Homo sapiens: one gene and its partner. The protein of the gene in region 1 interacts with the protein of each later gene in a pairwise test. Each region holds a gene or a part of one and is shown on either strand. Other genes may lie near its edges. The genes, in order: E2F2 and GNB5.

Region 1 (3,811 bases):
GCTTCTGTAGGGGGGCCCTTTCCCCACCCTGATGTGGTTTAGGCCCCACCCACTGCTTCCTCCTGGTATCATCCTCTGGGTGTGGTGGGGTGAGGAGCAGGTATAGGAGCCGGCTTAGGGCCCGTGGTTAAGGAGCTCTGAGCCCTTGGCCAGACTGGCTTTGGTAGGGTCTCAAGTGCCTGGGCCTCAGAGGATGGGAGTTTTATTTGCCCTTCAGAAAACAAGATTTCCCCTGAAAGCTCACTTCTCAGGTCACTGATGTTTTCCTATCAAGTACAGCAGTGCTTCACCAGGACTGGCGGTAAACTGAGGCACAGAGGTGGCTGCTAAGTGGCTTCATTGCTTTGGCCCCACATCAGGGAAAGGCTAAAGGAGGAATGATTCTCAAACTCTGCCTCTCTCTCCCCCTTTTCTCCAAGGCCAAAAGGAAGCTGGATCTGGAGGGGATTGGGAGGCCCGTCGTCCCTGAGTTCCCAACCCCCAAGGGGAAGTGCATCAGAGTGGATGGCCTCCCCAGCCCCAAAAGTAAGCAGTGCTGATGGGGCCTCTGGGGTGGGGTGGGGCAGGGGCAGAGGGCAGTGCCCTGCCCAATCACTGGTAGTCATATTTGGATCACTTTCCAGTTTACAAAAGCTTCCTGCGTATTTTATTATTTGATCCTGCCAGGTAGGTAGGCTTGTCTGTCTTTACTAATCAGGCAACTTGAGACTCAGAGAGCTTGAGTGACTTGCCCATAGTCTCAGAGTGGAGTCAGGACTAGAGCCTGGACATGTAAATCTTGCATTACTTCTGTGTTTTTTTTTGTTGTTGTTGTTGTTGTTGTTGTTGTTGTTGTGAGACAGGTCTCGCTCTGTCACCAAATGTGGATTGCAGTGGTGCCATCTTGGCTCCCTGCAACCTCCACCTCTGGGGTTCAAGCAACTCTCTCACCTCAGCCTCCCAGGTAGCTGGGACTACAGGTACATGCCACCATCCCTGCCTAATTTTTGTATTTTTAGTAGAGACACAGTTTCACCATGTTGGCCAGGCTGGTCTTAAACTCCTGACCTCAAATGATCCACCCGCCTCGGCCTCCCAAAGTGGTGGGATTACAGGCGTGAGCCACCATGCCTGGCCAGTCTCGCACTACTTCTACCATACCATGTACTGCTCTCATGATCTAAACTCAATGACCAGTGTTTTATTTGGGAATTTATTATTTTTAAAACGTTTTAATGTTTAGGTCAAGGTAAATTTTTCTAAATCAGAAGAGCAGGGGCTAACCAGGGTCTTTCTCCCACATGCAGACAAGGAGCTGAATAAGTGATTCAAAGGGAAGGGAAGCACAGATTAATCCAGTCTCTGCCACCCCAAAGGTTTTTAAGATCCAGAGGCTGCCCAGGTGGTGCCTTCCTAAAGCTAAGTTGGAGGGGGTTGCTGCCTCTTGATATTTTCAGTCAATATCCTGGATAGGCTGAGCGTGGTGGCTCACACCTATAATCCCAGCACTTTGGGAGGCCAAGGTGGGCAGATAACCTGAGGTCAGGAGTTCCAGACCAGCCTGGCCAACGTGGTGAAACCCCGTCTATACTAAAAATACAAAAATTAGCCGGGTGTGGTGGCGCATGCCTGTAATCCCAGCTACTCAGGAGGCCAAGGCAGGAGAATCACTTGAACCTGGGAGGCAGGTTGCAGTGAGCCAAGATCGCACCACTGCACTCCACTCCAGCCTGGGAGAGAGAGTGAGACTCCATCTCCAAAAAAAAAAAAAAATCCTGGTTAGAGCAGGAGTTAAAGCAACTGTGTTTGGGAGGAACACTAGTTTTGGGGGTCCAGGTAGGATTCTGCTCCGACCTGACAGGTCACTCCTGTGAACCTTAGTTGTTGTGAACCTTAGTTGTCTTGTGTAAAAGAAGACACAGCTAGATCAGGAATGGCAAGAAAGTTTCCTCTACATTTGATTGGTCAAGGCTGCCCAGAGCACTGTCTTGAAGGATCCTGAGGCTCATGATAACTGGTCCTCCTCCAGAGGAACCTAAGACTCTAAAATTCAGGTTCCAGAATTACTGGATTGGCCACTAACTTGCTATATGACTTGGAAGTCACTCGATTACAAAAGTCCCCTCGTGGTTTAAGATGCTGCAGCTGAGATGTGGTCTTGCAACATCAACCTCATTGAGAAAGGGACCTTTCTCATGAACCTCCCCGACTTGATGTTACAGGACCGATTTTTCTCAGATAATCATTGTGATTCACATGGGAAGAAAAAGCAAGTGTGTGTCTATAAAAATGCTCTTAAATCCAGGCTTATCATTTCTACCCTATTCTAATTCCAAACTCCGGACATTTAAGTGGCAGGATAGGGTAATGGTTAAGGAAAACTCTGGAGTCAGACTGCCTGGATTTGAATTCCAGCTTTGCCACTTTCTAGCTGAGTGAGCTGAGCAAATTACTTAAACTGTGCCTCAGTATTCTCATCTATAAAATGGGGATGATTGTACAGCAACCCTTACAGGGTGTTGTAGGGCTTAAATGTGTTCGTACATGGAAAGCACTTAGAACAGTGACAGTAGTTGTGGGTGGTGGTCTGGCAGCCCTAAGCTGTGGTGGAAATGTGCATTTAACCAGGAGTCAGGACACTAGGCTTCCAACACTGCCCATTGGCCGTGAGACCTTAAGCAAGTCACCTTCCCTCTTAGGTATCAGGTTCCCTGTCTGGACAGTGGTGGTGATGGATGCCCTGGCTCACACTGCTTTGTAAACTGGAAAGTGGGTGGTGAAAGGTGGTACTTAATGAGCCTAGGTCAATGGACGAGGGTCCTGGGCGGGCCCTCCCCTCCCTGAGCTGTGACTGGGTCCCTTTCTTCTTCAGCCCCCAAATCCCCCGGGGAGAAGACTCGGTATGACACTTCGCTGGGGCTGCTCACCAAGAAGTTCATTTACCTCCTGAGCGAGTCAGAGGATGGGGTCCTGGACCTGAACTGGGCCGCTGAGGTGCTGGACGTGCAGAAGCGGCGCATCTATGACATCACCAACGTGCTGGAAGGCATCCAGCTCATCCGCAAGAAGGCCAAGAACAACATCCAGTGGGTGTGAGTGCCTGGGCGGCCAGTGGTACCCTCCAATGGGTACTTGTGCTGTGGGCGGAGCCAGAGGCAATAGCCAGTGGGTGTGAGTGGCAGGGGCGGGGCTGAGAGCAACATCCAATGGGCACAAGGGCTGAGGCGGACCAAGAGCAACATCCAATAGGCTTATTGCTGGGGGTAGAGCCAATGTATGGTGAGGAAGAGCGCCGTGTACCTGCTGAAGTAATCGGAGAACGTGATGCGGGGCAGAGTGGAGAATGACATCTGGGAGGTGTAAAGGCCAAAGGGAACCTCAGATTCTTCCTCTTGAGTCAGAGATCCCAATATCCACTTCTTCTAGCTTAGGGCAGTCCCCTGGGAGCTAAGTAGGGGGATCCCGGACTCCTTCCAGATCTGAGATAGGAGTACTCCAGCCTCCTCTCTCCATTTCTACAGGGTTTAAAGAGCTGACCTATAGCCCTTGGCATAAATCCTAAGAGAAACCAGGCAGGGGAGGGAGTCAGGACTGAGGCTACTCCAGTTGGAGGAGGCTGGGGCATAGGGATGAACAGAGTCGAGAGCCCCTCAGAAATGGGGTTCAGGTCTTGACTTGTTTTTTCTCCCAAGCCCAACCCCCAAACCTCTGGTTCCAATCCCTGGTAGCTCCCTGAGAGACAGGCATGACCACTGATTTCCACAACCCAGGGAAGCACCCTCATAGACTATTTTTTGAATGACCTTGTTCTGGAGTTTCACCCACAGACTGA
Region 2 (3,811 bases), on another chromosome or scaffold:
GGCTCTGGAGGCAGACAGCAGGATTGGATCTTGGCTCCGCTGTGTTCTAGCTGGTGATCCTAGACAGCGTTTGAATTTCTGCGTGCTTCATTTTTCTCACCTGCACATGAGGATAGTAAAGTAGTAAATCTGTCCTGCATAAGGTTTTCTGAGGCTTAAATTAGATGATTCATGTACATAGTGTAGTCCCTGGTAAATATCAGTAAGCGTTAACTCTTATTATTTGTTTGTTTGTTTGTTTGTTTTTTGAGACAGGGTCTCACTCTAGTACCCAGGCTGGAGTACAGTGGCACAGTCTGGGCTCACTGAAGCCTCCACCACCCAGGCTCAAGTGATTCTCCTGCCTCAGCCTCCCAAGTAGCTGGTAGGCCTGTAGTGGGTCTGCAAGCACACGCCACCATGCCTGGCTAATTTTTGTATTTTTTGTAGTGATGGGGTCTTGGTGTGTTGCCCTGGCTGATCTTGAACTCCAGAGCTCAAGCAATCCACTTGCCTTTGCCTCCCAAAGTGCTGGGATTATAGGCGTGAGCCACTGCACCCAGCCAATTTTATTATTATTAACACAAAGCTTCATGGATGATGCTGATACATGGCCTAGTTTGGGTACTACTGAACTCATGAACCTCCAGCTTTCTTCAATCCCTGGGATCTAGGTTGATAAAAGAGAAACTCAAGCGGCTGGTATGAGACTATGGTATTAAACTTACAAATTCTCTGCATTCCAGAACAAATGAGTGACAATGAGTTAGGGGTTCTGTTTAATGCATTTATATGAATAAATGTTTGGTCTTTAAACTTTATTTTTACTTATATTATAATGAAGATCAGAAACACAAAATTGAAAAGTATTAGAAATCTACTTTTAACTTTTAAAAACTATTCATTTCTTTGATCAAACAGTATGGTATGAAAATTTCCTAAATTAAAGAGCAAGACTGGGGTAGTTGCTTAAAGAAAATTGTTTGGACCTGGTGTCTCAAAATAAACTGTAAGTTACTGCAAGTGTTATTAGGAAAGCAGTGAGTTGGAACAGCCACTAGTGGGTGTGGGCCAGGAGAGATTGAGGGAATTTGAGCATCCAACAAAATATGAGTACCCAAATTTCAGCCTCGGTTCAGGTTTTGTGTGTCCATAAGCTACTTTGCTAGCTTAAGTCATCTTGTTGGATGTATGCAGGCCTCCTGAGGGAAGTCAAGGCTGGAGGGGGTCCTGTGGACAGCCAGTGGGTGCAACACCAGGGCGGGAGCAGATTCCCCTCCTTGTAATTTGTTCCTTCCCTGCAAAAAAAGAAAAAAAAATGAGTTTTTTTTTTTTTTTTTTTGAGACCAAGTCTCACTCTGTTGCCCAGGCTGGAGTACAGTGGCGTGATCTCAGCTCACTGCAACCTCCGCCTCCCAGGTTCAAGCGATTCTAGTGCCTCAGCCTTCCAAGTAGCTGGGACAACAGGCGTGAGCCACTACAACTGGCTAATTTTTGTATTTTTAGTAGAGTTGGAGTTTTACCATGTTGGCCAGGCTGGTCTTGAACTCCTGACCTTGGGTGATCCGCCCACCTCAGCCTCCCAAAGTGCTGGGAAAAAAATGAGATTCTTTATGTTCAAGGCCTAACATATAAGAGAGAGGGGAAGAAAAAGGGAAAGGGGGCAAAGGGTGAGGAGGAGAGATCCCATCAGCAGCTGGAAATTGAAGGTGTGGTGTGGTCAGTGGTTGCATTGCATGCTAGCGGTGCATAAGGCCTGATTCCTCTTTTCTTTCCTCAGCCATCAGTAATCATCCGCAAAGGGCTCTCTTGTGGACACTTATGCTGCAAGAGCCACTTCCTCCACGGTCTTATCACCTCACCCAGGCCCTGTGGAGCAGCCAGAAGGCAGGGAGAGCTTCTCCCTTGCAGGTCCCCTCCATTGCTGTCAGTACCCAGCTGGCTCCAGGGCTCTGTGATGCCGCCAGCTGGGCCTATGAGGGCCCCGAACCCTGAGTCCTCACTGCCTTTCTCCCAATCCCAGGAAGGTATGCTCAGCCAGAGCCCAGGCCTCATACACACTGGCAGTGACAAAAAGTAAAATTCCAGCCCTGTCCCCATGTCTTTCCCTGGGCACCCCTGTGTGCCTTTACTCTATGGCTGACCTTTGTACTTGTAAGCTATCCAGAGGCTCTTTGGGCCTCTGCCAGAGTTTCCTAAAACATACGTTTGCTTTTCTCATTCTCCTGCCCAGAAGCTTCCAGAGTGCTCTCTTGGCTTCAGACTGAGTCCCCACCTGTGAACGGGCTCACCTTTCATTTAGTGCAGACATAGGCCCCCCTGGAGTTTGTCTCTCCCCTTCCCTTCTTTCACCTGGCCAGCTCTCACTCTTCCTTGAAGACCAACTCAGATATCACCACACTGGGTTTGGGACCCTCCTGTGTGCACACCTGGATCCCAGCACTTCTCATGCTGTTGTCATTGATCCTTGTCTACTGGTGATGTCAACTCCCCAAGCGAACATCAGAAATACTTGCAACCAAGCAAAGCTAAGGTTATCTGACCTGCCACAGTAAGGGAGAACCTCCACTTGGCAGAATCTTAGTAGGTTCTGAAAATGGAGGAATTAGGGAAGGGTACTTAGAGGATTTCAGGGTCCAGGCTTGGTGATTTTAAGGTGGGTCTTGCAAGGCCGTTTTAGCTTTGGATTGGTGAGCCCAGCAAGCGAACAGTCTTTGAGTCTGGATGAGCAAGCTGTTAATCTTGGTAAGTTGTCTAATCGATTCACAGTCTTTTCTCCCAGGAGCAGGTATTTTCTGCAGCAAGCAGTTAAGTTATTTTTACTTGGTCTCAATATGGTTTAACATAGTAACAGGAAAGTTGGCCTGGTCCCAGAATTGTTTAACACAGGGATGGGGAATTATGTTGGTTTCATTCTTACTGGCAATCCTATTAAACTGAGTTCTGGGAGAACAGAAACTGAGACACAATCTTTCTGCAAACCCTCATGCATTAGCAGAGTGCCTGGCAGACACTGTCAGCACACAGCAGATGTTTCTTGAACCTGTGTATGCGTGAATATCCTCTGGCACCCGTCAGTGGTCCTGGGAAGCCTCTGGGCAGCACTGTGCTCGGGAAAAGCAGCAACAGAGAATGTCCAACAAGATGCTGCCTAGACCCCTGCTGCTCCCAGTGTGCCCCGTGACCAGCCTCAGCATTCCCTGGGAGCCTGTGAGAAGTGTAGACGCTCAGGCCCCACCCCAGACTCTATTAGCAAGCAGCCCAGTGATGTGTATGCATCAGTATCCAAGAAGCACTTTAAGTTTTTGGCCTGCACAGCAGTGGGAGGCATCGAAGGTTTTAAACACTCAGTAGAGACTCACGGAACACTTCCTACGAGCCAGGCATGTGTAGAGCCCTGTAGGTACCACCATGAGGCCGCCAGGATTTCAGCTCTGCTGGGAGGCAGGCATATAAACACAACTCAAGGACTGTGAGGGTAGGAAATGCACTCTTTCCTTCTTTGTATAGAAGAGAGATTTCTGTGCATGAACCCAGATACAGCAGGTAGGGTGTGTGTGTGTGTGTGTGTGTGTGTGTGTGTGTGTGTGTGTGTGTGTGTGTGTGTGTGTTTTCTGCTTTTCCCTGTGTGTGTGTGTGTGTGTGTGTGTGTGTGTGTGTTCTGCTTTTCCCTGCAAAACGTTAAGCCTCTGATTGACTGCCCCCGGCATAAGCAATAACCACAACCATATAAACACAACTCAAGGACTGTGAGGGTGTAGGAAATGCACTCTTTCCTTCTTTGTATAGGAGAGAGATTTCTGTGCATGAACCCAGATACAGCAGGTAGGGT

Evidence for each region.
Region 2: the proteins of E2F2 (region 1) and GNB5 interact in a two-hybrid assay, tested with the Homo sapiens proteins (one large-scale study listed by BioGRID and IntAct).

Annotation. Positions count from the first base shown.
Region 1 is NC_000001.11:23,521,097-23,524,907, reverse strand, and holds part of E2F2 (transcription factor E2F2), read left to right. Parts: intron 1-129; exon of another isoform or gene 130-319; intron 320-419; coding exon 420-525; intron 526-2,851; coding exon 2,852-3,071; exon of another isoform or gene 3,072-3,322; coding exon of another isoform or gene 3,323-3,336; intron 3,337-3,811. UniProt on the Homo sapiens protein: Transcription activator that binds DNA cooperatively with DP proteins through the E2 recognition site, 5'-TTTC[CG]CGC-3' found in the promoter region of a number of genes whose products are involved in cell cycle regulation or in DNA replication.
Region 2 is NC_000015.10:52,135,893-52,139,703, reverse strand, and holds part of GNB5 (guanine nucleotide-binding protein subunit beta-5), read left to right. Parts: intron 1-3,811. UniProt on the Homo sapiens protein: Enhances GTPase-activating protein (GAP) activity of regulator of G protein signaling (RGS) proteins, such as RGS7 and RGS9, hence involved in the termination of the signaling initiated by the G protein coupled receptors (GPCRs) by accelerating the GTP hydrolysis on the G-alpha subunits, thereby promoting their inactivation.